Linked DNA regions of Homo sapiens. The protein of the gene in region 2 interacts with the protein of the main gene of each other region in a biochemical or structural test. Each region holds a gene or a part of one and is shown on either strand. Other genes may lie near its edges. The genes, in order: RAPGEF2, RAP2B, RAPGEF1 and RALGDS.

What was found.
Region 1: the proteins of RAP2B (region 2) and RAPGEF2 form a complex in vitro, tested with the Homo sapiens proteins (one study listed by BioGRID).
Region 3: the proteins of RAP2B (region 2) and RAPGEF1 form a complex in vitro, tested with the Homo sapiens proteins (one study listed by BioGRID).
Region 4: the proteins of RAP2B (region 2) and RALGDS form a complex in vitro, tested with the Homo sapiens proteins (one study listed by BioGRID).

The regions. Positions count from the first base shown.
Region 1 is NC_000004.12:159,098,715-159,106,561, reverse strand, and holds the start of RAPGEF2 (rap guanine nucleotide exchange factor 2), read right to left. Parts: upstream 3,484-7,847; 5' UTR 2,400-3,483; coding exon 2,331-2,399; intron 1-2,330. UniProt on the Homo sapiens protein: Functions as a guanine nucleotide exchange factor (GEF), which activates Rap and Ras family of small GTPases by exchanging bound GDP for free GTP in a cAMP-dependent manner.
Region 2 is NC_000003.12:153,165,246-153,171,127, reverse strand, and holds the end of RAP2B (ras-related protein Rap-2b), read right to left. Parts: 3' UTR 501-5,882; downstream 1-500. UniProt on the Homo sapiens protein: Small GTP-binding protein which cycles between a GDP-bound inactive and a GTP-bound active form. Involved in EGFR and CHRM3 signaling pathways through stimulation of PLCE1.
Region 3 is NC_000009.12:131,736,718-131,744,789, forward strand, and holds the start of RAPGEF1 (rap guanine nucleotide exchange factor 1), read right to left. Parts: upstream 3,360-8,072; 5' UTR 3,114-3,359; coding exon 3,053-3,113; intron 731-3,052; exon of another isoform or gene 698-730; coding exon of another isoform or gene 688-697; intron 1-687. UniProt on the Homo sapiens protein: Guanine nucleotide-releasing protein that binds to SH3 domain of CRK and GRB2/ASH. Transduces signals from CRK to activate RAS. Involved in cell branching and adhesion mediated by BCAR1-CRK-RAPGEF1 signaling and activation of RAP1.
Region 4 is NC_000009.12:133,117,804-133,126,382, forward strand, and holds the start of RALGDS (ral guanine nucleotide dissociation stimulator), read right to left. Parts: upstream 3,438-8,579; 5' UTR 3,352-3,437; coding exon 3,169-3,351; intron 1-3,168. UniProt on the Homo sapiens protein: Functions as a guanine nucleotide exchange factor (GEF) activating either RalA or RalB GTPases and plays an important role in intracellular transport. Interacts and acts as an effector molecule for R-Ras, H-Ras, K-Ras, and Rap.

The DNA.
Region 1 (7,847 bases), on a different chromosome or scaffold from region 2:
AGCTTATTTAACATGGTTGCTTTTCTAATATTATAAAATTCGAACTCACAAACATTTATAAGACAAGGCTGTATGGAAAATCTTCCAGCGTTCCATTAACAAAGCATTCTTAACATAAAAAGTACCTTCTACAAAAACTTTTTTTTTTATAATTTTTGAGTAAATTTCAAATTTTTATAAGATTACTCCTGGCCAGTCAGGTAAAGATGGAAAACGTTCACATTTCGAACAACTTTCTCTTGAAAAGAAATAAACGTGGGGATTTGTAGTAATAACCAAACGAACATCAAAGTTAATAGGGCTGACACTTAGGAATGTTTGAAATGTTTGGTAGGTTTCCTTATGTTTACTTTTTCTATGAAGGTTTGGTAGGGCAAATGGGCTGCCTTCCGACTGTCAATAAAGCTTTCATGTCGTGGGTTAGTAGTAGCTGGCCCAGGCCAAGTTCTGTGTTGGGTCAGTTTTTACTCTATTCTACACAACTGGCAGGGGAACAGGAAAGTTTAACAGTTCATTTATTTGGCACAGTGGGCCCACAGTCACAGTGGAGGTTTTGTCTCTTCTAGTCTTGTTTGGTGACCCGCCCCCCAACCTGATAGTAGGTTTTAGTCATTGTTATTCTTCTAACTAATCAACCAAATGCACCACTTCCCCCTTCTCTAATTTCCACCAAAGGCCTCTGACATCATTTTCTGACCAGCCTTGCTAGGTTCTAATATTCTCAGCATGCGTAATTTCACTTGGCACTTAAAACAATATTCTTGAAAGGAAATGAAATATCTCACTGAAATCTGCTTTTCCTTCACACTGAGACAGGGAATGTGCATTTTCAGATGCAGAAGACTGATCCAACTGACCATTTTAAAACAAATAGATGAGAAAGGCATAGGAAAGGCAGCGTGTGCAACACCAAGAGAAGAACAAGATCAATGCAGGACATTCCTTGTTGGGATAAAAATAGTCTTTTAGAATGGGAACTTTCTGGAGACAGATAAATTTTCTTGTAAAATTACAGCCATCTTCCACACGTTTGATAAATATGTGCAATCTATCCATGATCTCCCAGATGTGACAGCTCCATCAAGGAAAATGAAAAATCAAAAACGGTACCAGGTGCCACTCTTGGGGCTTGTCCAAAGGCAGCCAGGGGAAGAGTCTATTTTATTATGCTCTCCCCACAGTAAATAATAATCAACATCAGAGAAGGAGAGCATTTGGATTTGAACAGATGGCATCCAACATCTAACAAGCGAAGCAACACTTTCAAGCATTAGATCCTAAATGTCTGATGGTCCCAAGGATCAGGAGGGCTTATTTGTCTTAAGAGGGTTGGCAGGCAGGATCTCCTATAGTCACCATCCCAACGCTTAGGAATATGCGTCATTATCCAGTCAGCAACTAAAGGCGGAGAAAATTAAGCTACCACATTTTTATAAAATTTCCCCCTCTCCAGTAAAACTTGAGACAACCAAATCCAACCCTATCAGCCGCTATAAGTAAGAGAAGAGTAAGCCTGCAGGTAAACAAATGTATAAAGGTTAACAAACTTATCTAATTTTGACAAGGTTGTGCAACACCAAAAGAATCCGCAGGGTGCCCTTCCCGAGGGTGTACTGGAACATGCCTGCTCTGCAGCTATGTCTGCAATTTAAACTAAAAGCACTAACTTAGCTATTCAACTTTTTTTCCCTTCAATTGAAAGCAGTATCCTTTAAAAAATAAAAGCAAAACAGTAAACATACAAACACCTCAATGTTTTACTGAAGGTCAGCATGGATTTGTCTTTAGCACAACCGTACAGGTTTCCTCCTATACCTTTCAAACACCACTGAACTCCAAGGGTCACTTGCAAGGGGAGGAACGGATCTGGAGTCAGAGGGAGCAAGAGTCGCTGCCCGAGGGGAGATGAGACTCCATCCCCTGAGATTCAGAGGCCACGGAGGGCGGCTGGGGAGAGGGAAAGCTAGAGAATTCACACATTCACACACATACACACACACACACACACTCTCTCTCTCTCTCTCTCTGTCTCTCCCTCTCTCTCTCTCTCTCTCTCTCTCTCTCTCTCTCTCGGCTGGGCAACATAGTGGGAAAGGTCAGTCATGGGGAGGGAAGAGTTAAGGAGCAGAATGTCAAGGAGAGGGAAAAATAAAACCAGGATAGGCGGAGTAAAAGACTCGGAGGTGGGATGCCTTTGGAAGTTGGGGGTCCTGATGCAAGAAGTGGGGTGCTCGGGGCGAACTGTGTCAGGAAGGAGGTGGGGGGACAGGGGAAGACGCAGCCTGCGAGGCAGAAATCCGGCCAAGGGCAGGCGGCCGCCGCGTTCTCACCTGGGGGGTCCTTTCGGGGGGATTCTTCATCACCGCCTGGCGGAAGCTGTTATCTACGTAGGACGCCATCTCCCCTCTGGGAGCGGGCCGGGGCCGCTCCGCACCCTGGCCGGCCTCCTCCCGGCCCAGCGCCGCTGCTGCCTCCGCCCTGCGCGCTGCGCCCGCCCGCCCGCCCGCGACTAATCAGCCAAACCGCGGCGGCGGCGGCGCGGGGCCCGCGGGGGGGCGGCTCGGCTGGGCCCGGCGGCCGAGAGCGCGGTACAGGCGCGAGGGGCTGGACGCAGCCGGGAGGGTCGCGGCGCCCCTAGGCTGCCGTGCGATGCGGCCCGCAGGCGGAACTCCCCTTCCTCCTCCTCCTCCTCTTCCTCGCCGCTCCGCCGGCTTCCTCCGGCCCTGGCTCGACACGCCTCCCCGGCTCCACTCGGGGGACAGTGGCGGCTCCTCCTGGCCCCAGCGGGCCCGAGTTATTTTTAGGGAGGTACGAGTGGCAGTGGGGAGGGCTGTGGGCAGGCGGAGCCTCCTCCCCCACGGCGCTGAGGGTCGCCCCCTCCTCTCAGGGGCTTGCGCAGCCGCCGCCCAGGGGTCTCCGAGAATCACTTGGATCTTCCGCGTCCCCAGTCCTCGGGCGCCTCGGCCGCCGGTCGGGAGGACGGACCAGGTGGGTCTGGCTCAGGTCCGGGCGCTGCGAAGCCCGATCGCCTCGGCCGCCGCTCCTGGTCTCTGTCTACTGGGCTCGGCCGTCCCTCCCGACTGCTGCTGCATCCCCTCGGGCCGCCCAGCCGCCGCCGCCGCCGCCTCTGCTGCTCGGGCCGCCGCTGTGGGCTCCGCCGCCGCCGCCTCCCCCCATCAGCGCGCCCGGAGCGGAGCTGCCCCGGCGCCGGCGCCGCCGCGGCCAGAGCACCCGGCCCGGGCTGCAGCCCTCCGGCCCAGTCGCTCTCGGCAACTTTGTTCCTCGTCTGCGCGGGGCGGAGGAGGGGGAAGAGGGGGCCGCGGACAGCCCGGGTTCGGACTCCCGGCGCGGGCGTCCGAGGGCCGAAAGCCGAGAGCCGCGCACAGCCCCCTCGGAGAGAGTGTTTGGGAAGCGGCGATTCCCCTCCTCTTCCTCCGCCTCTTCCTCCTCCTGCGCCTTCTCCGGCCGCCGGAGCCGCTCCTCAGGGAGGAAGCGGCCTCTGGGGCTTGTTGCTTTGTGCTGCAACCATGGTGAGGAATGAGTGACAGCGTGGGGGCGAGTCGGCGGCCGCCGCATCATCGGGGGGCGGGGCAGCCCCGTCGCGCCGGGTCCCGCCTCCCCGCTCCCCGCCCGCCAGCGGCCGCGCCCTCGCGTCTGAGCGGCACCTTCGGCGGCGCCCAGGTGAGCAGCGCTCTGGCCGCAAGTGGGTCGCGGAGCCCTCGGCCGGGCTGTCGGGTCCCGCGCGCGGCCTGGACCCGAAGAGGGGGCGCAAGTCCTGGTGCCCCGGAGAGAAGCGCAGGGCTTTCCTCACGCAGTGTCCCCCACTGTCTCACGCCGCGCCCCCTCCCCACACCCGACGCGCCCTACTAGGAGACCCAGCCGCGTCGGGTCGCTGCTCCCCGCCCGCTCCTGGCGCCACGCCGCCGCCCAGGGGCTGAAAGCTAACCTTGGGCAAAAGACCGGCCCACCAGCCCGGGCTGTACTGGGCATTCTTTTTGAGCCCAAGAGTTGCGTCCGAGTTGCTTCTGTGGCGATAAATCCTCTTAGGATTTATTTTGCTTATTTGTAATTTGCTGCACCCTCCCCTGCTTTCCAAGCCCACTCTGGCACCTCAGACAGTAAAATGACCACGAAATTAGGCAGAGAGGTTTCAACACCAGACCCACTACCACCCCTAGACCAACAAACACTCCAGATTTAAAGTTGATCACTCCTTAGCGACAGACCAGGATGGCAAGTTCTGTGACATAATCAGAAACATTTATTGGTAGGTCTGGCTTTGCCTTGGACAGAACAAGCCTCCTCCTCTAGATGCTCAAATTTCCAAACCGGACCCACATGGTGCAGAAACAATACCTCGTCCTTCAAGATGTCACCGCTCCTGCTGATTCCCTCAGCTCCCCCCCACTCCTTGCCCCGGCCACGTAGAGGTGTGTTAAGGTCAGCCCAAGCATCGGGGACCACTCTGCTGTTCTGGTCCCAGGGATTTATTTTTGTTTGCCCCCACCCCCCACAAGTTCTTATTTTGATATCTATAGACACAATGAGTTTTATGTATGAGCTACTGCGTTGAACTTTTCAAACATGATTTTCAACATCTAGTTTAAACACTTGGAATAGATTGTCAGCTAACATTTTGGGGTTCCTTAAGTCACCTGTGTGCACTAAACAGCTTGTGTGACTTCCTAGCAAAGGGACTGTCCCTGCCCAACCTTGTGAAAGGGAATCTGAGTTACAAATTGTATCTGTAGACCTTTTTATATTACTCTTGCTGGAACTGCTTCTCTATATTTCTCTTTCACCTCTTAGTTGAGCGCCAACATCAAATTCTCTATGACATAGGCCACTACCTTGAAAGCAAAGGAACATGAATAAGTGCCAATACAGCTCTGAAAAAAGGAGAGAGGCAGATAAAAGAATTCAAACCCAATGAAGTGAAAAAATATAACTGACATCTCCACCTGGTGTCTAATAGACATCTCAGAATTCACATGTGCAAACCAGGCTCCAGATCTCCTGTCTCAGACACCCACAGCCTTCCCCATCCTCTGTTAATCACATCTACACCATTCTCACTTCCTGGGTGAAAACGTTGACTTCCTTGACTCCTTTCTTTCTGTTATACCTCAAAAGTGTCAGTAAAAATCGTCAGCTCAACCTCCAGAATGCCATATCTGAACTCTAACCTTTATCTACCACTTCTACTGCCATGACCCTGGTGCAATCCAGCATCATGTCTGGCCAGCACTTTGTCATAACCACCCACCTGGTCCCCCTCTTTCTAACCTTGCTTGCCATACAGTTCATTTCCAACACAGCAGCCAAAGTGTGAATTCTTTTCACTCCTTCTCAAATCATTCCTCTGCTTAGCTCCTCATACCACTCAAGGTAAAAGCCAAAGTCTTACCATGGCCTGAATATCCTATGGACCTTTATCTCTCTGACCTCTTCTACTATTCTGTTCCCAAGCACATTAGCCTCCATGTTGTTTCTGAAACAGCAAATTCCAGTCTCATGACCTTTCCATCTGCTGTTCCCTCTACTGCCTGGATTATCTCTCCCCCTCTCCCCACCCCACTTGCACCCACAAAAACAAAAAACAAAAAGAAAAATGCACACACACAACAACCAAAATATAGAATGTTGTTCCTCATTGTCATCATATCTTCATTTGAATGTCACCTTCCCTGTAACTCCATACACTCTGGTTATCTTCGTCGCTTTACTTACCACCTAACATACTGTATATTGTACAGGTGCTTGCCCACTTAGGATGGGGTTACATCCTGAGAAACCATTGTAAGTCGCAAATATTGTAAGTCAGAAATGCATTTAATACCCTGATAAACCCATTATAAAGTGGAAAAATCGAAAGTCAATTTATTGACCATCGTAAATTGAGAACCATCTATACTTATTTATTTTATTTATTGTTTTATCCCTCCACTGTAATGTAAGCTTCTAAGTCAGGGATGTTTGTCCCTTTTATTTACTGCTATATCCTCAACACAAGACAGGCAGCCAACAAATAGGTATTAAATGGATACATGAAGTAGTTCATGTTACCTTGTATTTGTATGAGATTTTTACATACATTATCTCACTTGTGTCCCTGGTTGCGGGGAGAAAACTGGGAGAGGAAACTTAACCTCTCTGAGCCTGTTTTCTGTTTTATAAAAAGAGAGTACAAATTGAATAGTCTGGCCAGGCAAAGTGGCTTACACCTGTAATCCCAGCACTTTGGGAGGCTGAACCAGGAGGATAGCTTGAGGCCAGGAGTTCAAGACCAGCCTGGTCAACATAGCAAGACCACTGGCTGCACAAAAACTTAAAAAAAAAAAAGGAGCGGGGCATGGTGGGGTGCACTTGCAGTCCTAGCTACTCAGGAGGCTGAGGTGGGAGGTTATCTTGAGCCCCGGAGTTCAAGGTTGCAGTGAGCTATGATCACACCATGGCACTCCAGCCTGGGTAACAGAGCAAGACCCTGTCACAAAAAAAGAAAAAGTTGCATACCCTGAAGATTTGTGACGATCCAAGATAATACATGCAAAGTGCCTTGCATAGTGGTTTAACAACAGTATATACTCAATAAATGGTAGTTATATTTAAGATTATTCTCATCATTGCAACTCTCTGAGGCTAGTGGGACAGTGTTATCTTATTTACAGATGAAGAACTGACACTAAAATAGGCTACATGACTTGTCCTAGTTCCCGGACTGCCTTTAACTTTAGAAAGTTCTGGAGCCAGCTAACAAATGGGGATCCATATACTCTATCATAAATACTAAAAGCTACAAATTAACTGGGGGAGTACTGAGTACTACTGCAGGGAGTACTGGTATCTGGTCTGCAACTGGAATCCCCTTTTCTTTCCATCTCAGCTTCATCCTATCCCATGGAAAGGCTCACACATAAGAGGACAACCCAGCTAGTGCGGTGGCTCATGCCTGTACTAATTCCAGTACTTTGGGAGGCCGAGGTGGGCAGATCGCGAGGTCAGGAGTTCCAGACCAGCCTGACCAATATGGTGAAACCCTGTCTCCACTAAAAATACAAGAATTAGCCTGGCGTGGTGGCGTGTGCCTATAGTCCCAGTTATTCAGGAGGCTGAGGCAGAAAATTTGCTTTTACCTGGGAGGTGGAGGTTGCTTGCAGTTAGCTGAGATCAAGCCACTGCACTCCAGCCTGGGTGACAGAGTGAGACTCCATCTCAAAAAAAAAAAAAAAAGGACAAGGACAACCCAGCCTACACATCTAAGTGATATCACACCCCTCAAAAAAGCCACCCCTTGGTGATTCCTCGGGCCAGGGGCCAGCCTTGGAAGATGAGGTCTGGAAGTGGCAAGGCAGTCAGGACCAGGGTTCCAGGTGCTCAGAGAGTATGGAACTCCTTGCCCCATGGGGAGGGGGGATGCTAGAGGGGACCTTCTACACCAGACAGGAATGCCTCTCTGCCAGATCTCACAGCAAGAGTTAGGAATTCCAGTTGCACACCCAAGTCTTTTTTCTCTGTGTGCTCTACTGTAACACTGAATTACATCAATCACCTCAGGTAAGACATAATAGTATGTCTTATCCACCAACAAAATGACTAACTCACTGTCAACTTCTAAGCTATCATTTAACTTCAATTAAAGCTAATTTTCACACTATGTATAACCTACTTATCTACATATGTCAATAATGCATATCACCACTCAGCATCTAGGACATCAGATACTTGGCATGCATTGCTGTTTTATTAACATTTGAGCACCAGTAATGTGCTAGGCACAACCTGGAAGACAGAATTAGACAAAGATCTGCCACTCTGCCAATTAGTCTAAACCAAACTGTGTCAGCAAA
Region 2 (5,882 bases):
AATTTAATTTTATTTTACTTTTTTTTTGAGATGGAGTCTCATTCTATCACCCAGGCTGGAGTGCAGTGGTGCGATCTTGGCTCACTGTAATCTCTGCCACCCAGGTTCAAGCAATTCTGCCTCAGCCTCCTGAGTAGCTGGGATTACAGGTATCTCCCACCGCACCCGGCTAATTTTTGTATTTTTAGTAGAGACGGGGTTTCACCTTCTTGGCCAGGCTGGTCTTGAACTCCTGACTTCGTGATCCACCTGCCTCGGCCTCTCAAACTACTGGGATTACAGGTGTGAGCCACCGTGCCCAGCCTTGTGAGTAAATTTTATAAATCTGTTTTCTTCATGTTTTCCTCTTCCCTTGGACATGAAAATATAAAAGTAAAATCATTTCCTCTTGTAAGTGTTCAATTTTAGCTAATCTCAAAAAGGAAGTTGAAAATGATGCAGAAAAGTAAATAAAATGACAATCTTATTACACAGTTTCACATACAACAGAACAATTATTATTTGAAATTCATGGAATCCATTTTTATTTACAATTTCCACATACCTTTCAAAGGCCCAATGTTCAATAAATTTATCTACTCTATTGTCTGCCAAACAGCCCCACAGTATTATAACTGATGACACATGTAGATGTGCTTTTCCATATACTATTATTGTTTAATATACACTATTTCACAGATTATAGTGAAAAAGAGCATAAAGCTGTTGCGCCTTCACCTGACTTCCTCTTTTAAGTATTAGCGCTCGCAGTACAGCTATTAATAATAGTAGTATGTGCTCAATAAGTGTTGAATAATCAATGAATCAATTTCAGCTGTTTACCAATTTCCACTGCAACCATATTCTTGATAATTAAGGTTGGTCTCAGGCCTTTTGGGGACACCTGTATTCACAAGGCATCAATAATCTTTCTCTTTTCCATTTTTTAAAAAATTTTGCTACCTTTGCAATTTTTCACAATTACCACAAATAAACCAACCACGTTTTCAATCCTCTGACAAACTTAACCTCACATAATTTTGCAAGATAATTCATTTTAAAATGAGTAAGTTTAGTCAACTGGATAAGAAAGAATGCAAATAGCTGTCTCCTCCAATTTATAGAACAGATCAACACTCATAATTTCAATAGCCATAAGGCCCATTTTGCTTTTCCTGCATGTCTATACCACTTAGTCATTTCTGCTTCTCAAAACAAACCATTTCACTAATTAAGGCTTTAGAAATTGTCACTCCTGGCTGGATGCAGTGGCTCAGGCCTGTAATCCCAGCACTTTGAGGGGCTGAGGAGGGAAGATCTCCTGAGCCCAGGAATTTGAGACCAGCCTGGGCAACACGGCAAGACCCTATCTCTACAATTTTTTTTTTAAATAAAATTATCATCTCAGCCGGGTGCAGTGGCTCACGCCTGTAATCCCAACTCTTGGGAGGCTGAGGTGGGTGGAGCACAAGGTCAGAAGTTCAAGACCATCCTGACCAACGTAGTGAAACCCCATCTCTACTAAAAATACAAAAATTAGGCGGGCGTGGTGGTGCACGCCTGTAATCCCAGCTACTCAGGAGGATGAGGCAGGCTAATCGCTTGAACCTGGGAGGCAGAGGTTGCAGTGAGCCGAGATCGCGCCATTGCACTCCAGCCTGGGCGACAGAGCCAGACTCCATTTCAAAAAAAAGGCTGGGTGCGGTGGCTCACACCTGTAATCCCAGCACTTTGGGAAGCCAAGGTGGGCAGATCACAAGGTCAGGAGTTCACGACCAGCCTGGCCAGTATGGTGAAATGCTGTCTCTATGAAAAATACAAAAATTAGCCGGGAGTGGTGGAGGGCGCCCGTAGTCCCAGCTACTGGAAAGGCTGAGGCAGGAGAATTGCTTGAACCCAGGAAGCGGAAGTTGCAGTGAGCCGAGATCGCGCCATTGCACTCCAGCCTGGCCGACAGAGCAAGACTCCGTCTCAAAGAAAAAAAAAATTATCATCTCATTGTTTTTTCCTTCTTTAATGTAAATAGTTTAGTCCTAATGATTATTAACCAGGATTAGAATAAACTACCAGATAATTCTGATTGTCTTATATATGGCAAATAAATTCATAGTATAGGACACTTTTAAAATATATTATTCCAACATAAATATAACCCTAAAATTAAAACAGGTTCACAAAATCAAGTATTAGTCCATATTAACAGTAGTAGAAATAACCGTAAAATGAAAGCCAAGATAAAAATATACTGAAGTCAGTGTTTCATTGTACTATCACCAGCAATAGCCTTTTGAATATGGAGCTCCCTAAAACTGTCATAGATCTCAAACTATCAACCATAAATGTCTGTAACTTTTGTTGAAAATGAACCTTAGAATAGCATACAGGAATGTTCCTTTATCAGATGGGCAAACTAAACTTTAAAAAAGTTTATTTCTGTATAGTTGGAATGGAAGACATAGCTCCAAAGACAATCTTAATAAATCTATCATGGGTAGGGAAGATAAAATCCTACCATTCTTCAATCAACACTTTTCACCTTCTAATAGAATAGTTTCAGATGTAACACTCCATGTTCCATTCATTCAGCAAATAGCTATTAAGCTACTATAGAGAGCTGTAGACTACTGTGCTATGAAAATAACAGTAACAACAACAGGGTTGAACAAAAAAAATTTTAACCAAAAATATTTATTATTCTTGAGGCAAAAGCAAGAAAATAACTGAAGTCCAGGAAGCATTAAAAATGAAAATGGAGATTTGAGTAAGGGCCTTTCTTCCCCACCCAAGCATGATAATATTATTCTCAGCATCTAAATAGTAGCTACTACTCCCTCAGTCTATAAACTGGTACTAAACTTTCTAAATTGTAAAAGAGAAATTTGAAGTAAGCAATCCACTACTTGTAATTAGATCTACTATTGTTTCTTTAGAAGGCCCCCAAATTGTCTTTAAAAACCCAGATCTTTAACATAAAGTTCTGGGACCTTCTGAGGGAATTAAGATGCATAACGAAAGAAGCTGCAAGATACACAGTTTTGTGGTATGCATTTTCCCAGAATGGATTACAGTAGAACTAAATGAGAAGGAATTAACTAACACCTGGAAGTCTGGCTAAGAAACTGAGTCACAGACATACGCATGTGCTTACCATGATATGAAGATTTAAATTCTCTGGCACAATGATTTTTAGAACCCTTGCCATGAAAACTTAAAATCTTTGTTTTTTAATGTTGAAGAGAAGACAAATAAAGTGTCCCCTTTTATTGAAGACATACTTTTCAAATTTTTTTTCCCCTAGGTTGGGGAGAAGGGGAATGTTGATTCTGATCACTTAGGCTTTGCCTCTATTCTAACCACATTTTCATTTAAAGTCAACTTCTGAATTAACATTGAAAACCATAGTCAAAATGTTCCTGTAATAATGTGAAAATGATCAAAAACTACCTGCAATGTTTATTCTATTTCACACACAACAGTTAGTCTTAGTATAAATGGTATATGTCCTCTTTAGCTTAGATTTCAATAGAGATTATTCTCTAACTGTAGTAGACAGCACTCCAAAATGTGTGACATGAGTCTGAAGTCTGTGTCTCTCAATATCTAGGTGGCTGTCAGTATAGTACTCATTTGGAGTTCAGTCTAGATCACTGGTTTTCAAAGTGTGGTCCCTGGAACAGCAATAACACAATCACTTGGAAACTTGTTAGAAATGAAAATTGAGACCCTACCCGAGACCCACTGGGTAAGAAACTGGAGGAGGGTCCCAGCAGTACATGTTTTAAGCTCCAGGTGATTTTGATATATGGTCAAGTTTGAGAACCTTTCAACCAGATGATCCCCATAGCCTTCTCAAACCTTCAAAATCCAGTTAATAGATAAAGATCTCACTCACCTAGAACTAGCTCTGTGTTCAGTTAAATGCACTGAATCATTCCTAATAGTCTGCATAAAATACTGTAATCAAGAATACCACATTATATTAGTATTTTAAAATTTACTATATTTTCACAGACAAAATGTATATTAGCAAACTTTCCCCAAATAAGACACTGTGACAAATGTCTGGTATCGTTTTAACAGTGATGATCTCCAAATTAAATCTCGGTTCCCTTTATACTTATAATGCAGGAACTTATTCCAGCTGTTGTGAAAAACAAAAAATCTATGCTCTTATGACAGTTAAGATGCTTCTACTTCTCAAGACCAGCTGCTACATATAGCTTTCTGTTTCTCATACCCCCTGTGAGAAATACTAGAATATGACCCAAAAGAGGGTACAATAACAAAACTACCTGAACAGATAAAATAGATCAGGCATTCTAGGATTCCCAACCACAGGAAATATTACATAATCAGGAAGCATGAAGTCCCATACATTTAAAGAATTCTATCCCCAAATACATCTGGTCCCAAAATGTGATTCAATTAAGTCTACAACAGTTAACAACATGGAAATTGTTCTACGAAAGAACCGTAACTCTCAAAGACTAGAGTGTTAGACCTAAGATGATACCTTTAACTTTCCTGAAGCTATTAAAAAAGGAGGACAAAAATAACCCTTTTGAAATAACATAAAACCTGGATTGACTGTCAGAGACCAAAAGGAAAAGCTGTTTAAAAACAGCAGGGGTCAAGTTTAAAAGTCAGCTTTTGCTCCCCAAGATAAAGACTCCTTTCCCACCCAATTTCTGTTTTGACAGGTGATTGCCTTACAACAAACTCCGCCCTCCCTGACTCACTTCCTTTAACACTAACTTTTTCATTGAAACAAATGCCCTTATCTCTTCACACACTAATACCACAAGGGGTTCTTAATAGTCAAAGAAACGAACATATTCTTAAAAACATTTTTAAGAAAAAAATAGCAGTGTTCCTAATTTCTCTCAATTTTGCCAAGAAAATATGAGATAAAACCAAAAACGCTATTTTCTTGCTTCAGGCACACATAAAATTGCTTTCATTGATAATCCAAAAAGCATTTATTTTACATCACTTAATAAAAGCATATTAAAATCTTCTGCTCTGCCATCCTAGACTATAAAGAGGTCCTGCAAGTGACTAAATCCTGGGCGGAGGTGATTAACGCACCCAGCAACATATTTCATTTCCAATTTTCCACTTTCAAATATCTTCTGTCAGTATATACATTTCTTAGATACTTGGCAGCATTTTATGTCAAAAGGTTTCCAAAAACTTAAAAATAAAACAAGAGACAGTTAAATGCCAAATGCCTTTTCTTAAAAAAACCCTCCAGACAGTACTTGACATGACTTCAGCATTTTTAACACTTTGGATCTACTTTAGCAACTGAATTTATTCAAATACAAGAACGAATCTTTGCAAAGGCATAAAATTATACAGTATCTTTTAATTTCTACATTTAGGATATTGATACTATTGCCTCCCAATTGTGTTTGATATCAAACTTAAGTGAGATCAGAGTGGGAAAAAAAAAATGGCAGTAGGACCATTGCCAGGCAAAATTCTCTATTCTTCCTCCATTGCTGGAGTACTGAGATGCCTCTTGGGCAAAAAAAAAAAAGCAAAGCAAAAACACACACACACATTTTAAGGCAAGATATGTTAACACAGCTTTAAAGAAACCTGTGGCCTGTTAATTTCTTTTGGTTTTGTCAAGGGTGTAAATCCCTTTGTCAAGACTCTTCAGATTTCAGCTACACTTCATAGACCTAAGGTATACCAAGTACTCTCTTGATATGTATGAACATGTTATATTACTAAGACCACCTTAAGAAAAATAAAAAATAAAAAGCTCACACTGCCTCCTACTGTTAAAAGGAAAAACTTATGAGGTCAAATGTGGTCCAAACTGCAGGGTGTAAATGAGAACAAGGATATTATCTTAGCCTGTTTTCTTTTAAATCTATTTCCAAATCAAAACC
Region 3 (8,072 bases), on a different chromosome or scaffold from region 2:
TGGATGCCTTAAGCACTGAGAACTAAAAACGCTGGTTCTTCTACTTTCAGGGAGAGGAGATTATGAACATATTTAAGCAACGTTTCTGTTGCTTTGAGATAACAAAACAGCAAAACTCCAATCACAACAATTGTTTGCCTGGTGTCAGGCTCTGCCACCACTTCACCTAAGGGCCTCTCCTCTGAATCAAATACTCCTCTGGAGACTGAATAGTGGGAAGTCCATTAAAAAAACTCCAACAGAAATCTAACAAAATGTCGTCTAAATGCAAAGGGAAGTTCACTGAGAATAGCCAGCAGAGACCACCAGGAAAGGTCATCCTCACTCCAGGCGCGCCCCAGTCTTCCTTGGCAGTTGTAATCTTTCACTATGATTCCTATGAACTGCAGCAAAAGACCTTCTGCAAGGAGGCTGGACTTCCAGCCAGCTCCACATCTGCAATCCCCAATCTGCAGGCGAGGTCCTGACCCTGGTCTTGCCAATCTCAGAACTCTTACTTTTTCTGCTTCTCACAAAATGCATCTTCCTCCCACACTTTCCGCAGCTCCTGGTCAGCCCCTTCCCCTCTCTCCTCTTTCTCCCTGTCTCCACCAGGTATATATCTCAGCCCTCTCTTCAGAGCCTAGCACAAACACTGTCCCCTCCAGTGTCTTCCTCATTCCCGCACTCATGACACCCCTCTCTCACCTGTGTCCATGGCAGCACGGTCGCTCGGTCTGGCAGCCTGGGTAGCTTAGAAACTGTGCTAGGTTAGACAAGCTTCTCTGGGAGCAGGCACTTTCATCTACAACCCCCTAGCAGAAGGCGGTGCCCAGAAAAGGCCCAAGGACAAACTATGCTGAAATGAACTGGCCTCAGGTCTTTCTCCCAAATAGCAGAGAACTCAAATGAAGAGTCATTTCATTCCCAGCGGTTTGGGCAGCTCATGGGATGACAGGCAACTTTTTCCTTTTTTTAAAAAAAGAGGCCCAGCGCGGTGGCTCACGCATGTAATCCCAACACTTTGGGAGGCCGAGGTGGGCGGATCACGAGGTCAGGAGATCGAGACCATATTGGCTAACACGGTGAAACCCTGTCTCTACTAAAAATACAAAAAAATTTGCCAGGCGTGGTGGCAGGCGCCTGCAGTCCCAGCTACTCGGGAGGCTGAGGCAGGAGAATGGCGTGAACCCAGGAGGAGGCGGAGCTTGCAGTGAGCCGAGATCGCACCACTGCACTCCAGCCTGGGCAACAGAGCAAGACTCCGTCTCAAAAAAAAAAAAAAAAATTTTTTTTAAAGTAGCAATGAGGTCTCGCCATTTTGCCCAGGCTTGTTTCAAACTCCTGGGCTCAAGTGATCCTCCTGCCTTGGCCTTCCAAAATGCAGGGATTACAGGCGTGAGCCACTGTACCTGGCTGACAGATGATTTCCAATCCGGTTCATTTTACTTTTCTGTGATTTCCAAGTTTTGACAATGAACATAGAATATTCTTATATTATAAAGATATAAAACATAATATAATCTTATATTAGATATAAAAAGATATAATATAATCTTATATATTATAAAGTTCTTATAAAAGAACTCAGTGAATGTTCTTTTTAAAATAAATTATCCAAGTTTCCCAACAGTACCGTTCTGACAAGACACTATACAAGAAGTTCCTGAGAAATGCTGCACAGATGAACCCAAGTTATTTCTGGAGCAGCAGGTGTACAGGATGGCGACTCATGGTCACTCGGCAAGGCTGTGGGGGCTCAAATTCAGTGAGAAAAATACTCAAGAAATGGCACCTGAACCCAAGCGCCCTGCCCCTGAGAAAAGCACCCTGGCTTCTGGTCAGAGGGCCAGGAATGAATATACTAGGGGCCTGCCGCCCTCTTGCTGTCTGGACAGCCGGAACTCACTGAACCTCTCTGAGCCTGTAAAACTGGGACCATATTCTTTCCCACAGACTAGCTTCAAAAATTTAAGAAGCAATGCATTTTAGGTGCTAAGAGTTAGATATATAGTAAACCCTCAATAAAGCCTACAAAAATGTCCTTCTGTGCTTCAACCACAGCCTGCAAAAGTCATATTGCCTTGTGGGTCCGCTGCAGGGGTGCACCCCACAGAAGTATCCCAGATTCAACCCAGGAAACATAAGCAACTTCCACAATCAAAGCCACAGACCTCCTTTGCAGCTCCCTAAAAATCTGCTTTCCCTCATTCAGCCGCCAAGCTAACCTGCTACCGGGGTTATGACCACAGGGCATGCTCCCAGTACAGGAGCCCAGGAGCACCCGCCCACTTCACCTTAGACCCAAGAATTCGCATTTGCCCTGCAAGGTGCTGCAGGCTAATAAAGCCTGGGGCCCCACAGGCTCGACAGTCATTGAATCTTTGGAGACTCTATTTCCAGGACAGGCAAACCCAGGGACTCGGAAGGTAACTCCCCCAGATTTCTAGGAACACACAAAGAGACGAGGTCTGCATCAAGATTTACCATCTACTCCAACCCACCGGTCCCCCACCTGCCCTCCTTGCAGAGCTGAGCTTGATCGGGGTGGGGAGGGGAAACTTGACTACCTCCTCAAAATACCCCCACTCATCCAGCCTGCTTCCTTTGAAGCAACCGAAGTGGACGCTTCTCGTTAAACTCGAAGCTCGTTAGAAATGACACATTTTACAGCTCAGCTGGGTTCACCCTCCTAGCGCCGAGCCCAGGCCGGGCACCGATCGCTGCAGCCGCAGCAGCACGCGGCCCGGGCTGTTCTTCCCCTGCTTGGGGCTCGAGCCATTTTCGGAAGTTCCCGGGGACCGCGGAGCGGCTAGCGCGCCCGGCCCCGGGTTGCAGGGGCCCCGCCCGGCCCGGCCCCTGGCGCCCCCGCAGCGGCCGCTTCCCCCCGCGCCCGGCAGGCAATGGGCCTGGAGGAGAAGCTGCCAGGCGCCCCGGCGAGGCCTCGGTGGCTTCACCCCGCCCCGGCGCACGGAGGGCCGCACATCCCGGGCGACCCGCGCTCGGCCCGGGGAGCGGCGGAGCCCCAGGGCCGGGCCCGGCCGGAGGGAGCCGCCCCACGCCCGCGCCTCACCTGCTTTCTCGATCTTGCCGGACATTTCCGGGCTGCGCCGGAGGCCGAGGCCGCCGCTCATCGGGCCCGGGCCGGGCCGCCGCGGGGCGACAGGGGCGGCGCGCCCGCCGCTCGCCTCGGCCCTGGCTCGCCACGCCTCAGACCCGCGCCGGCATGGCGGGCTCCGCGCGGCCGCGGCCCTGCGCTCGGCGACCGCGCTCCAGCCCGCCCGGGCCCAGCCGCTCCCGCCGCGCCCGCCGCCGCCGCTCCGCCTCCCGCGCGCCCGCCGCCGCTCCCCCGGCCCGCGAGCCGGCCGCAGCGCAGCGACGCCGCCCGCCCGCCCGCCGGGCCTCGGCCGCGGCCACGGCCACAGCGCCACCTGCCGGGCGCCCGCCGCGCCGCCACAGCGCCCCCTGTGGGCCCGGAGCCGCCCGAGCCTCCCGCGCGACGCGCGAGACGCAGCGCCCCCTGCCGAGCCGGAGTCCCCACGCCGGGGCCTGGGGCCTGGGGTGTGGGGCCGACCCCGCCTGGGACTCCGCATTCCTCTGCTGTGGGACCAGAGTCACCAGCTCCAGACCTGGGACTGACAGCTCCAACCCAGGGTCCTCGGTTGCCCAAGAGCCTGGCCTGCCCCCTCACCAGAGACACAGAGAACCCTCCTGGGTCAGATTTTCCACCCCAGGACGTGGAACTGACGCCCACCCCACCCTAGCATCATCCCGGACCCAGCATCCCCTGTGGGCCAGAGGCTCCACACCAGGGCCTAGAACTCACTCTCACCAGGACTCAACAAGCTCTGCTGGCTGGGAGCCTGTCCTGACCTCCCCCAAACCAGAGATGCAGCACCCCCTTTTTTGTTTTGTTTTTTGTTTTTGAGACCGAGTCTCACTTTGTCGCCAGGCTGGAGAGCAGTGGCGCGATCTCGACTCACTGCAACCTCTGCCTGCCGGGTTCAAGCAATTCTCCTGCCTCAGCCTCCTGAGTAGCTGGGATTACAGGCACATGCCACCATGCCCAGCTAATTTTTGTATTTTTAGTAGAAACGGGGTTTCGCCATGTTGGCCAGGCTGGTCTCGATCTTCTGACCTCATGATCCACCCACCTTGGCCTCCCAAAGTGCTGGGATTACAGGTGTGAACCACTGCACCCTGCCCGCACCCCCTTCTTAATTGGAGACCCCACACCAGGGCCTGGGAGTGGCCTCATAGCACCTCCTGCCAGCCCAGAGGCTCCAGCCGGGGAATGAGTCCACTCTGGCATGAAAGCCCTCTGCTGGCCCAAGGTCTATGCCAAGGCGGAGGATTCATTCTCCACCCCAGCCCTGCATGTGGGACTCAGTCACCCTGCCAGCGAGAGCCACCTGTCCCGGGCTGGGGTTGGCCCTACTCAGGCCTAAATGTCCCCTGAGGCCTAGAGCCTCCATGCTGGCCTGGGCCCAACTCCCTCAGGGACACAGCACACCCTGCCTGCCCTGCTTATTTGACATCCAGAAGGGCACCCTGGGGCTCAGCTGTGGAACTTTTCTAGTGTGGAAATGAGTTCATTAAAAGTCGTGGCTGGGCACGGTGGCTCACGCCTGTAATCCCAGCACTTTGGGAGGCCGAGGCAGGTGGATCACGAGGTCAAGAGATTGAGACCATCCTGGCCAACATGGTGAAACCCCATCTCTACTAAAAATACAAAAATTAGGTGGGCATGGTGGCACACGCCTGTAGTCCCAGCTACTTGGGAGGCTGAGGCAGGAGAATCTCTTGAACCCAGGACATGGAGGTTGCAGTGAACCGAGATCATGCCACTGTACTCCAGCCTGGTGGCTCCAGAGCGAGACTCCGTCTCAAAAAAAAAAAAAAAGTCGTGGTTGGGCACAGTGGCTCACGGCTGCAATCACAGCACTTTGGGAGGCTGAGGTGGGTGGATGACTTGAGCCCAGGGGTTCGAGACCAGCCTGGGCAATGTGTGAAACTCCGTCTCTACTAAAAATACAAAAATTAGCCAGGCACGGCGGCACCTGCCTGTAGTCCCAGTTACTTGAGAGGCTGATGAGGGAGAATCACTTGAGCCCTGGAGGCAGAGGTTTCAGGGAGTCATGATTGCACCACTGCACTCCAGCCTGAGTGACAGAGGAAGACCCTGGCTAAAAAAAAAAAAAAAAAAAAGGAAAAAAAAAGTCATTTAAGAATCAAAGGATCTGCTAAGTCTAAGCACTATTTCGGGTTCTGTGGGCCCTACAAAAGTGGGCACAATTGGTGCTTCCCTCCAAAGAGTTCACAACTTAGCTGGGAAGTCAAAGTTAAATCCTATAATACAAGTAGTAAATAACAACAAATTAGTAACGCAAGTGATGTTCCAATGTGGGGCAATTCTGCTGCCTGCTTCCTGTTGTTAGTCTAAGATGGAATACAAAGAAGTAGCACGCACCACCTGGGCTAGTTTTCCCTCCTGTTTCCCCCAAAATAAGTAAATTAAATAACCTAGTGATGGGGACAGGATTTGGGGGAGGTGCAGGGAGGAGGAAAAACTGCTAATGTTGTGAGAGATTCTTATTCCCATCTCCCTGGACAGTCTAAAGGGTCACCGATTCCACAACTAAGAGCTAGTCAGGCCGGGTGTGGTGGCTCACACCTGTAATCCCAGCACTTTGGGAGGCCGAGGTGGGTAGATCACCTGAGTTCAGGAGTTCGAGACCAGCCTGGCCAACATGGTGAAACCCCATCTCTACTAAAAATACAAAAAATAGCCGGGCGTGGTGGTGCGCGCTGGTAGTCCCAGCTACTCAGGAGGCTGAGGCACGAGAATCACTTGAACCTGGGAGGCAGAGGTTGCAGGGAGCCAAGATCGCGCCACTGCACTCCAGCCTGGGTGACAGAGCGAGACTCCCTCTTTAAAAAAAAAAAAAAGGAGATGGTCATAGATGGCAGCCAAATTTCCCATCATCATTTCATCAGTTGCAGCCCTCTAGAGGTCAAAGGCAAATCCAAAGATTGACAAATTCATTTCCCTCTTCCACCTGATGAATGGATGCTCTGATCCAGGGTGGCCCTGTTCAGCCCTCTTGGCAGATGCCTTACCAGGCAAAACTGGCCCCTGGTCCCAGGCCCAACCCCAAAACACACTCAATGCTGCCCCCAACCCTTCTAGGCTTCTGAGCTGAGAAGAGCCGATATTTTAAATCCAAAATCCTGGTTGAAAAGTAGAAAACTAGACTGCATGGATACTAGGTGCAGTCAGGGGTTTGTGAGAACACAAATATATTTAATAAATTATGACATATCCAATGACAAAAGATTTGCAAACAACAAAGTACTTTGCAAATGGACATTATGGTAAATCAGGGTCACAGAACTTACTTAATAAAGGCTATTCATCAAAGATGTTTATAACTATAGTAGAACACACACAAGGTAATGAAGCAAACGGATTCCCAAAGCCCAGTTCTGGCTGACTTGGAACCTTCTCATGAGCTGCTCCTGCTGTCTAGAATGTTCCCTCCCCTCCTCTCCACTTGGCTGGTCCCAGTCATCTTTTGCTTCTTAGTTTCACTGTCACTTCTATGGAGAATGCTTCCCTGACACGCCCCAACAGGGCCATCCTCCTGTACTGATTAGGAAACTTGATTTCACTCTCAGAAACCTAGCTCTGCTATTGCTTACAGCAAGAAGGGCATTTTTTGAAGATCATAATTAGTAAACCAGGTGTACAATTAGGTCCAAATGCAGCTAACCCAGGCTCTGGAACAAGGCCATTGGTCCTCTATGTTGGTTCCCTTCTCAGGTCATCTTTCTCTACAAGGTAGCAAAGGGTGAAGCTGGGCACCAGCAGTCCTGGGCCTGTCACCTGCCTGCTTAACAACCCCAATGGACAAAGAGGATCTCTTTCCTCATTGTTTCAAAGAGAGCCCCATGGCAGAGTCTAATTAGCTCAGTTTGAGTCACACGTCTATCCCCAGGCCAATGACTGCAGGAATGGGGTAGAATATGTGACTTGGCCAGCCTAGGAATTGTGCCAATTGTGAGAAAACTTGGGAGCAGAGGCTGTGGAACAGCCTAGCATCTCAGGAAGCTGAAGCAAGAGAATCACTTGAGCCTAGGAGTTCAAGCCTGTAGGGTGCTATGATCACACCTATGAATAGCTACTGCACTCCAGCCTGGGCAATAGAGTGAGACCTGTGTCTGAAAACAAAATAAATTGTAAGATAACAGAAAATAAAGCCCTATTAAGACAAGGGGTCATGCCGGGCTCTTGTACTGCGGCAGCACCAACTCCAGCAGAGGGAAGGGGCTCAGTCAACACTCGGGTGGGTGCTGTCAGGCCTTCTCCCAACATTCCAGGGAAGGATGGGGTGAGCCAGGTGACCACTCTACCCTAGCAGCTCTCCAGACTCCATGGTGGAAGATGGAAGAAATAGTTAGGTGGCTCTGAGCCTGCTCACAGAGACTATTTTAGATGGGGGCCCCTTGCAAAAGCGCCACATCCTCTTCTTGCGTTTGCAGACAACACTCAGCTATTCAGACAACAGGAACTCCACGAGACTCGGGTAGAAAACAGCCAGAGTGAGGCTGGTGGCCAGGGGCCCACCTCAGCTTGGATTGGTGGGATCTGTTAGCAGGCACCTGCCTGAACTCCCAGACACCACTGTCCGTTCCCTGTGGACAGAGAGTATTGCTTCATTACATCACCATTGTAGATCAGAGGAGGAGGTGAAACCATTACTAACAGGAGTCATGGGAATGAGGGCTGATGCTTCCTGAGGGCTGCCTGTGGCTGGGCACTGCTCAGTCACTGCCTCAATCCTGACATGAATCCTGGGAGGGCGGGGTCTAGATAAGAGAGTGTTTGTTTGGTCACGTGTTGTAGATACCTACTTAATGTTGGCAAAGGGGAATCTATTGGTAAAAAAAAAGAATGTCTCATAGGTAGAACCAAAGGGCAGGAAATTCAATACCTCGCCAGCAACTGAACTGCACGTAACAATCACTCACTTTCCCACACATCCCGAGGCCACTTCCTTCCCCAGCTCAGCCGTGAGACCAGACCCGCTAAG
Region 4 (8,579 bases), on a different chromosome or scaffold from region 2:
CCAGTCCTTGACTGCCTGGGTGCAGCTTCCTGAAACCGCTCCACTGGCTCGTTCAGAGCCTGCCTGCAGAGGGCCAGTGATAAATCTCCCCACTCTTTTCTCATTGGCAACGCAGACAGGTCCTGGAAATGCCCAATTTCCAGGTTAAGAATCAGACCCCAGCTCTGGCAACGAGCAGCTTGATATCTCCCAGGGCCATTCCTGAGCCTCCCGGGAAACAGGCCAGCATGCCTGAGCATCCCCCGCCTGGAGAAGGAACAAAGACCCAGGACCAGCCAGCCTGGTCCCCCTCTTCTGGGGGACCCTCCCGAGTAGAGCAAGAGGGGAACCTGAGGGTCCTGGGGGCTGCCCCTTCAGAGTCACCCAGGAAGCTCTCCTGGAAGACCACAGTCTGTACACATGCATGCAGGGACACACACCCACACAGGGACAGGCCCTTTGCCTTGGGGTCTTCAGTGTCAAAGTGCTCATGAGCCCTGGGGATTAAACCGAAGACCTGCACACAGTGTGATCAAGAGATCAAACAGTGGGAAGACGCGGGAGGCTGAAGGGAGATGCTCCCTGTGAATACAGAGAAGCCCTCTTCACTCCAGCCCACCTGCAACTGCCCTCAGGCCTTGGGTCAGAATCCTGGCCCTGCCACTGACCAGCTTGGTCACTCTGTGCAATCTAATTCACCTCTGTTGCCTCAGTGACTTTATCTGTCAAGTGAGCTCTTAACAGTCTTGACCCCAAAAGGAGATGATGCAAATTACTTAGCCAAGGACCTCCCCAAAACCTGCTGGCTCTTATTAGCTGTTATCTTAAACCTGTGGGGTCCAGTTCTGGGCTTGCTTCCTCCAGGTAGCTCTCCCCAGCGTCCTGTGGCCCAAAGCACTTTTGCCTTCCTCTGAGCCATAAGCTTCCCTACTGCTCACCTGACCTCAGGGCTTCTGGGCTGCCTGGGCTTCCTCTGACTCCTGGTGGCTCCTGCACACAGTAGGTGCCACAGAGAACACAGCCCATGCTTAAATCCTGGCTGCGGCCCTTGCTGGCTGCACGGGTGTTTAGGTCAGAGACTTCCCTTCTCTGACCCCCTAGCTTCCTAGAAGGTGGTGTTGGCACCTACTCTGTAGGGTTGGTCTAAGGCAGATGAAGTGAGGGGGTGGCCCACAACCTGCACTTTTTGTCTGGCCAAAGCAACAGCCTGTCCAGAGATGGGGGCACGGACCAGGTCACCTCCAGAAAGCAAGAACTGTGCAGGCCAAGCTGGGTCATTGGTGGCTTGGCTTAGAATCGGGAAGATAAGCGGAAGCCCAGATGTGAGGAGATCTGGCAGCCCAGAGGGAAGCACCGGGTGGAAGCTAGGTAGGGAAACAGGGATGCGGGGGAAGGCAGAAACTGTCTGGTGGTTTCCAGAGAGGACAGGGACCAAGTGCGCAGCGTCAGCTCTGGCAGGCCACATAGACACCAGGAAACCAGCCCCAGGACGGGGGGTGTTGGCAGGAGGGACAGGGACTTCCCCGCCCCCTCCCTTGGGCCCTTGGTAAATGGTCATTGTGTTCAGTTTCCGGCAGTGGCCTCCTCTCCTGCCAGGATCCTGGTTTTCCTGACCCAGCCAGAAGCTTCCCCTTTGATTTCTAAATAGCAGTCGAGGTCTGGATCTCAGTGCTGAGGCTGGGCAAGGAGCGCCAGGGCCAGAGAGAGGGAAGACAAGACCCCCAGGCAGGGGTGGGGCTCAGCTCTGCCTCTCCCTCAGTTCCTCAGGGACGGAGAGAGGGAACCTGCACGGCCACTGTGAGCGCTCCGCCGGACCCTCCCAGCACACAAAGCCCGAGCTGCTGCCAGAGGTAATGAAAGCCAGATGAGCGCTGGGCTGGTGTCAGCCTCCCACCCCCACCCTCCCAGGGGTCCCTCTCCAGCCGCCAATGAGGACCAGAGCCCTGGATAGATGAGGGTTGAGGGAACACGTCTGGTCCGGCCATCTGCCAAGCTCAGGAGGAAAGGGTCTCTCAGGCGTGTGGTGTTCCCCCACCAAGAGCTCTGCCCAACACTGGGCGGAGAAACAAGTCGCATCCAGGCCCTGTCTAGGTACCGGGACACCAAGAGGCACGAGACTCAGGCTAACAATCGCCAGCAATCACAACGCGCCACAGTCTAAAGCCATGAAGCGACTGGAGACGCAGCAAGGCAACACGATGCCGCACGGGGACTCAGGAGGTTCACTGTGAAGGCTGCAGCCCAGCCAAAGCTCTGATGGGCCCTGAGCCCCCGATCCAGGAATGGCCTCTGTGCAGGCCCTGTGCCCAGGCAGAGCAGGGCGAGGGGGGCATCTCTGGATTCCACTCCCTCTGCTGTGTAGTCAGCAGCAGTCAGGTGGGAGGCAGATGGCACCACCCAGAGACCCAGGGCACACGAGAAACAAGCCCCCGCCCTCACCTAGTCACCCTCCCCTCCATCCATCACAGGTACACCACTCCCTTCTCTGAATCCTACCCAGTCCTTACCGATTCAGGGTGTTGGCACTCTTTCCAGTTAAGCAGAAACAAGTCTTGCCCGCCCTGGGCCTGGGCCACCCTCCTCCCCTCACCACCAGGACATCTGGTCCCACGTGTTGGAGGCCTGCTGCTCCACCCCATCCCCCGACCCCCCCCCCACCCCGCTCTGAGCAGCCCCGATGTCCCTGGTCACCAGATCCACATCTGCCCCAAGTAGGGTCTGTCTGGAAGGCCCCTATGGTCTCATCACCTCTGAGGATTCTAGGATTTGGCCTTCCCGACCACTTGTTCCACACCTGCATCGTAAAGGCTAACGACGCGCTGCGGGCCCTGGGTGGGAACTGAGTGAAATAAGGCACAGGCCACCGATGTAAACAGGGACAGTGCCGCAGAAAAAGGTCCACCTGGGCTGCAGCGGCCTTGGTGACAGCAGGCCCTGGAACGGTATTGAGGGGCGCAAAACCCCAGCCGTGGTCCCTACTGTTGGACGGGGCGCGGCGGCAGCCCCCACTGCCCACCCTGCTGGCTGATTTCTGCAGAAGGCCCCGACCCCCACCTATGGAGGAGAGAGGAGGGAGGCGGCCCGCTGGGATCGCCCGGCCCCGTCCGGGGCTCGCCCCGACCTGCCCAGCTCTGCCGCGGGTGGGGAGGCTCCGACGCACCCCCCGCCCGACCGCCCCAGCTCACCCACCTCCGGGCGCGGCAGGTCGGGGTCTAGCTGCGTGAAGCTGTGCAGCACCACCGGGCAGCTGTCGGGGACGCCCACCTCCAGGCGCACGGCGTCCCACACGCTGCGGCTCCGCCGGGAGCCCGGAAACAGCGGCTCGGCGCCGCCAGCAGGCCCGGCCGCCTCGGCCCACATGCGCTGCACCATGGAAGGCTCGCAGCGCGGGCGCGGGGCCGGCCCGGCGCGCGGCGGGGGCGGCGGCGCGGCCCGCGCGGCTGGGCTTTGCCACCGCTGTGAGCCCGCGGCCCGGCCCTGCTGATGTCAGGCTGGGGGGCGGGGCCGGAGGGGAAGAGGGTGGGGCCGGGGAGGGGCGGAACCGGAGAGTCCGAGGGACGCGTGCGTGCGCGCGCCCGCGGCCCCGCCCTCGCCGAGGTCAGACCCGGGGCGGGACCGGGAGCCTGGAGGGGCGGGGTCTGAACAAAGAGGGCGGGGCCGGGGAGGTCGAGGGGTGCGCGTTGGCTGGGTCTCCCGGAGGACCGGCTGTCACGTGTGTCGTGGGGCCTTGGGTACCCCGGTTAGGCACCGTTTGCGTGTCACGCTGCTGCAGTGCGTGTGTTGCGTAGGGCTGAAATGTGTACGTGCTGATCATGTGTGGGGAAGCCGCCCTGGAGTCAGCTACCCCGAATTCCAGCAAAGCCTCTCCCCAACTCTGTGGCCTTCCACAAGTTGCTTAACCCCTCTGAGCCTCACTGTTTCTTCATCTGGAAAATCTGGGTAGTGAAAATGACTTCCTCAAACAGTTGCGGGGAGGATGACATTACGTAATGGACATGAAGCACTCAGCACTGAGCACCTGCACCTGACTACAGGCTCAGGCGGAGTTTGGAGAGGCTGACCATGTGTTCAGTGACCCTGTCAGTGCAATTGGAAATCCTGAGTGTGGGGCTGTGTGTGCAGTGGGGGAAAGGGTCAGAGAGTGGGGCCCTACCTTTTTGGGGCAAAGCCCCACACTATCCCCTTACAGACACCCTCAGAGGAGGGGAAGCCAGGGAGGTGGGGGAGAGCGGAAGGCACCAAGGTTGGGGCTGAGAGGCATCTGACAAGGAGGAAGGCATCAAGAGTGACAACGCTGGGCAGAGCACATGGCTGCGTGGCCTGTCAGCTGGGGCTGCTTGTGGCTTGGACATCCCTGGTCTCAGGGTGGAAGTGGGGCTGCTGGGGCTGAAGGGGAAGCAGGGACAGGGACATCCTCAACTACTCTTTCTGGAAGCCAGTGAGGAAGGAAGACAGCCTGGGGCTTAACAGCAGGGCCAGGAGAATGGATGAATGAATGGGACCCTTCCTCATGCCTCACTCATCACTGGGCCTGCCCTGGCCTCAGCCTTCAGTCTTCATGGAGGCCAGCAATTGCTGCCAGCAGCCCTGGCCATGCCAACCTCCCCAGGTCTGGTCCGTACTATTGGGCCTCAGTTTCTCCATCTGTAAACTGAGAGGGCGGGACCAGACAGCACATTCCACGAGCACATCTTGCCCCCTTCCCAAGTGCCAATCCTCAGACACCCACGAAACACTTCCACTGTGACTGGAGTGAGGCGGCAGTTCATCCGTTCAGAACAAGACCCCCATGTGCACACGACTAGAAGGGCCTACTTCACAAAAATTATGGTGGTAAGTTGCAGCTGGGTGGAAGCTCTACTGGTTTTCATTTTACTTCTCTGAATTTCTAATTTCTAAAATCAGTATTTTAATAATCAGCTCTATGTGATAAATGCTGTTTTTGAGACAGTCTCACTGTCACCCAGGCTGGAGTGCAGTGGTGTGATCTCGGCTCACTAAGGCCTCCGCCTCTTGGGGTCAAGTGATTTTCCTGCCTCAGCCTCTCGAGGAGCTGGGATTATAGGCACCTGCCACCATGCCCAGCTAGTTCTGTATTTTTCGTAGAGACAGGGTTTCACCATGTTGGCCAGGCTGATCTTGAACTCCTGACCTCAAGTGAACCGCTCGCCTCGGCCTCCCAAAGAGCTGGGATTACAGGCAGGAGCACTACGCCCAGCCTGTTTTTGTTTTTTTTTTAAGAAGCAAGATGGGTAGATTTGATTTGGGATGGAGATCCCTAGAGGCTGTTTAGGAAGCCTCCAAGCCGTTTGGCCAGGGAGGGTAATGTGGGTGAGGCGTATTTCGAGGCAGGAGGTCCCCACAGGGCCACAAAGAGGTGACCGAGACACTGCCCTCGGCCCTAAGCTCCTCCTCCCATCCCTTTCTTCTGGGGCCAAGCTCCCAATGCCTCCGGAAACTGAAAGTCCAGAAGCTGCCTGCCACTGACTTTATCTCCTCTGCTCTCTTTATCTCCTTCGCTGAGTGATGGGCCTGGGAACAAGCGCCCACCCGTTTTATAGCCCAGAAGGACAAGTGACTCATGAGGACATAGAGGAATCACCACTATTCTGGCCTTGAAGGTCCTGGGTGCTGGGGCGAGGGGTGGCCCCAAGGAGGCTGGAGTGGTGAAGAGTAAAGAATTCATCACACTAAACCCCCCAACGCGGCTGGCCTGGCTCCCTCCCATCTGACTATATCATCTACAGGAGCCAGGGCGGGGGAGGGCGTTACTTAGCCAGTCCCTCTGGCCGGTGTCTGTTTTTACAAAGTTCCTCTTCCTGCCTTGTTCCCCTACCTTTGGGACTCACCTCCCAACTTCTGGGAAGCCTGATCACTGCTCTGGCTGTACATGAGACACACACACACAGACAGACACAAAGATACACAGAGATGCACACACAGAGACACACACATAGAGACAGAGACACAGACACACACACACACACAGAGACACAAAGATACACAGAGATGCACACACAGAGACACACACAGAGAGACAGAGACACAGACACACACACACACACACAGACACACAAAGATACACAGAGATGCACACAGAGACACACACATAGAGACAGAGACACAGACACACACACACACACAGAGACACAAAGATACACAGAGATGCACACACAGAGACACACACATAGAGACAGAGACACAGACACACACACACACACAGAGACACAAAGATACACAGAGATGCACACACAGAGACACACAGAGAGACAGAGACACAGACACACACACACACAGACACAAAGATACACAGAGATGCACACACAGACACACACATAGAGACAGAGACACAGACACACACACACAGAGACACATACATAGAGACAGAGACACAGACACACACACAGACCCACAGAGACACATAGAGACAGAGACACAGGCACACACACACACACATAGAGACAGACACAGAGACACAGACGCACAGAGACAGACACAGGCACACACATTTAGAGACGGAGACACACACACAGAGACATTGGAACAGAGACACACACGCAGAGATAGAGACACACAGACAGAGACATACCTACTCAGAGACATAGAGACAGACACAGAGGCTGGGTGTGGTGGCTCATGCCTGTAACCCAGAGCTTAGGGAGGCAGAGGCAGGATTTCTTGAGCCCAGAAATTGGAGACCAGCCTGGGCAACATAGCAAGACCCCATTCTCCACAAAAAGGGAAAAAACAAGTTTGAGATAGACACAGACACACACACACAGATATAGAGACATAGACACAGATACACACACATAGAGACAGAAACACAGATACACATGCCCCCCTAATGAAGGCACAGATAAAGTTCCCTGCACAGGATGTGTTGCCCAATGCCCTCAGATCGGGCGGGCCTGACTCTGCCTCACACTGTTAGCAACTGGGGTTGGCATTCATGGGACGCCTCCTGCATGCAAGACCCTCTCCTGAGGCCTCCTGTAAGCTGTGGGGACACCCTAACCAAGGGCAAGGCCATCCTGGGACAGCGTGTGTCACCAGTGGAGGAACGCAGCACCACTCACAGTGTTCTCCTCAAAACCCAAACCTAAATCAAGGCAGGCCTCTGCATATAACTGCCATTTGTGGGATTACAGGGGACAGAGAAACATGTTCAACACACCACAAGGGTGCAATCCACAAATCCAGGCTGTGGGAACCTCTATGGGACAAACAACCCAGTTTCTTCAACAAATACATTTCAGAGGAAAAAGAAAGGGGAAACTAGACTAAAAGAAGGGTCAGAGACGTCTAACAAATGCAATGTGTGGATTTTGGATCATGATGTCAGCAAGACAACTGTTTAAAAAAAACAACTATAAGACATGTGGATTGTCTGAACACTGCTACATATTGGATGACATTAGACATCTTTTTAGGTGTGAGAATGGTGTTGCCGTCACTAGTAGAGTTACATCTTGGGCTATCTGTGGATGGCATCACATGCCTGGGATTCATGTAAACATCTCCAGGGGCGGGCAGGGAGTGGGGCAGTGAGAGGTGAACAAGAGTGGCCCTGCACCGATGGTCGTGAAAGCTGGGGGTCTTTATGCCATTTTCTCTATTTTTGTGTCTATTTGGAATTATCCATAATAAAAGTTATAAGAAGAAAAATGGCCAGACGCAGTGGCTCACGCCTGTAATTCCAGCACTTTGGGAGGTTGAGCTGGGTGGATCACTTGAGGTCAGGAGTTCAAGACCAGCCTGGCCAACGTGGTAAAACCTCATCTCTACTAAAAATACAAAAAAATTAGCCTGGCATGGTGACGCGTGCCTGTAATCCCAGCTACTTGGGAGGCTGAGGCAGGAGAATCGCTTGAACCTGGGAGGTGGAGGTTGCAGTGAGCCGAGATTGCACCACCGCACTCCAGCCTGGGCGACAAAGCAAGACTCCGTCTCAAAAAAAGAAGAAAAAGGACACAGCTTGAGACTCACCCTCTGATGCCTCTGAGGCTCCCAGCAGTCCTCCAGAGAGGGCTACAAACTTCTGACCCCGGGCAGTGACTCCTGCCAGGCTCACCGTTTCCTGTATTACTCTCTGTGGGCACAGGGGTCACTGATGGCATCTTCACTACAAAAGGGGTTGGGGGCTCTGCTGTGGGGACTGAGGCCGTGGGCAGCTAGAACCCGAGTCCGGATGCCCACATGGGGCTATCAGAGATGGCTGGGGGCAGTCCAGGTGAACTTGGGTGGGTTTGACACTCAAGGCCAATGACAACCCTGTGCTTGGCGGTTGGAGCCTCTGCTGGGAGGAACTAAGGACTCTCGAGATCACTAAGCACTGCCCGGAAGTGGGGGGTTCTTATGAATCGGCATTGATCCCTTCCTCCCTCCTGCCCCAGCTCACGCCCCCCCACACCCCCACCTAGCCTTCCCAGGTTCCCAACCTCCCCCCGGGACGTGCACCTGCCTTTCCTTGGGGGCTACAACCACAAGCCCCTGGAGAGCACGGCTGCACAGACCTTTCGGAAGTCGGGACGCTGCTCGCAGAGGAACTTTAAAAGGCAGGCTGTGAACTGACAGCTGGCAGCCAGATCCCACCCACA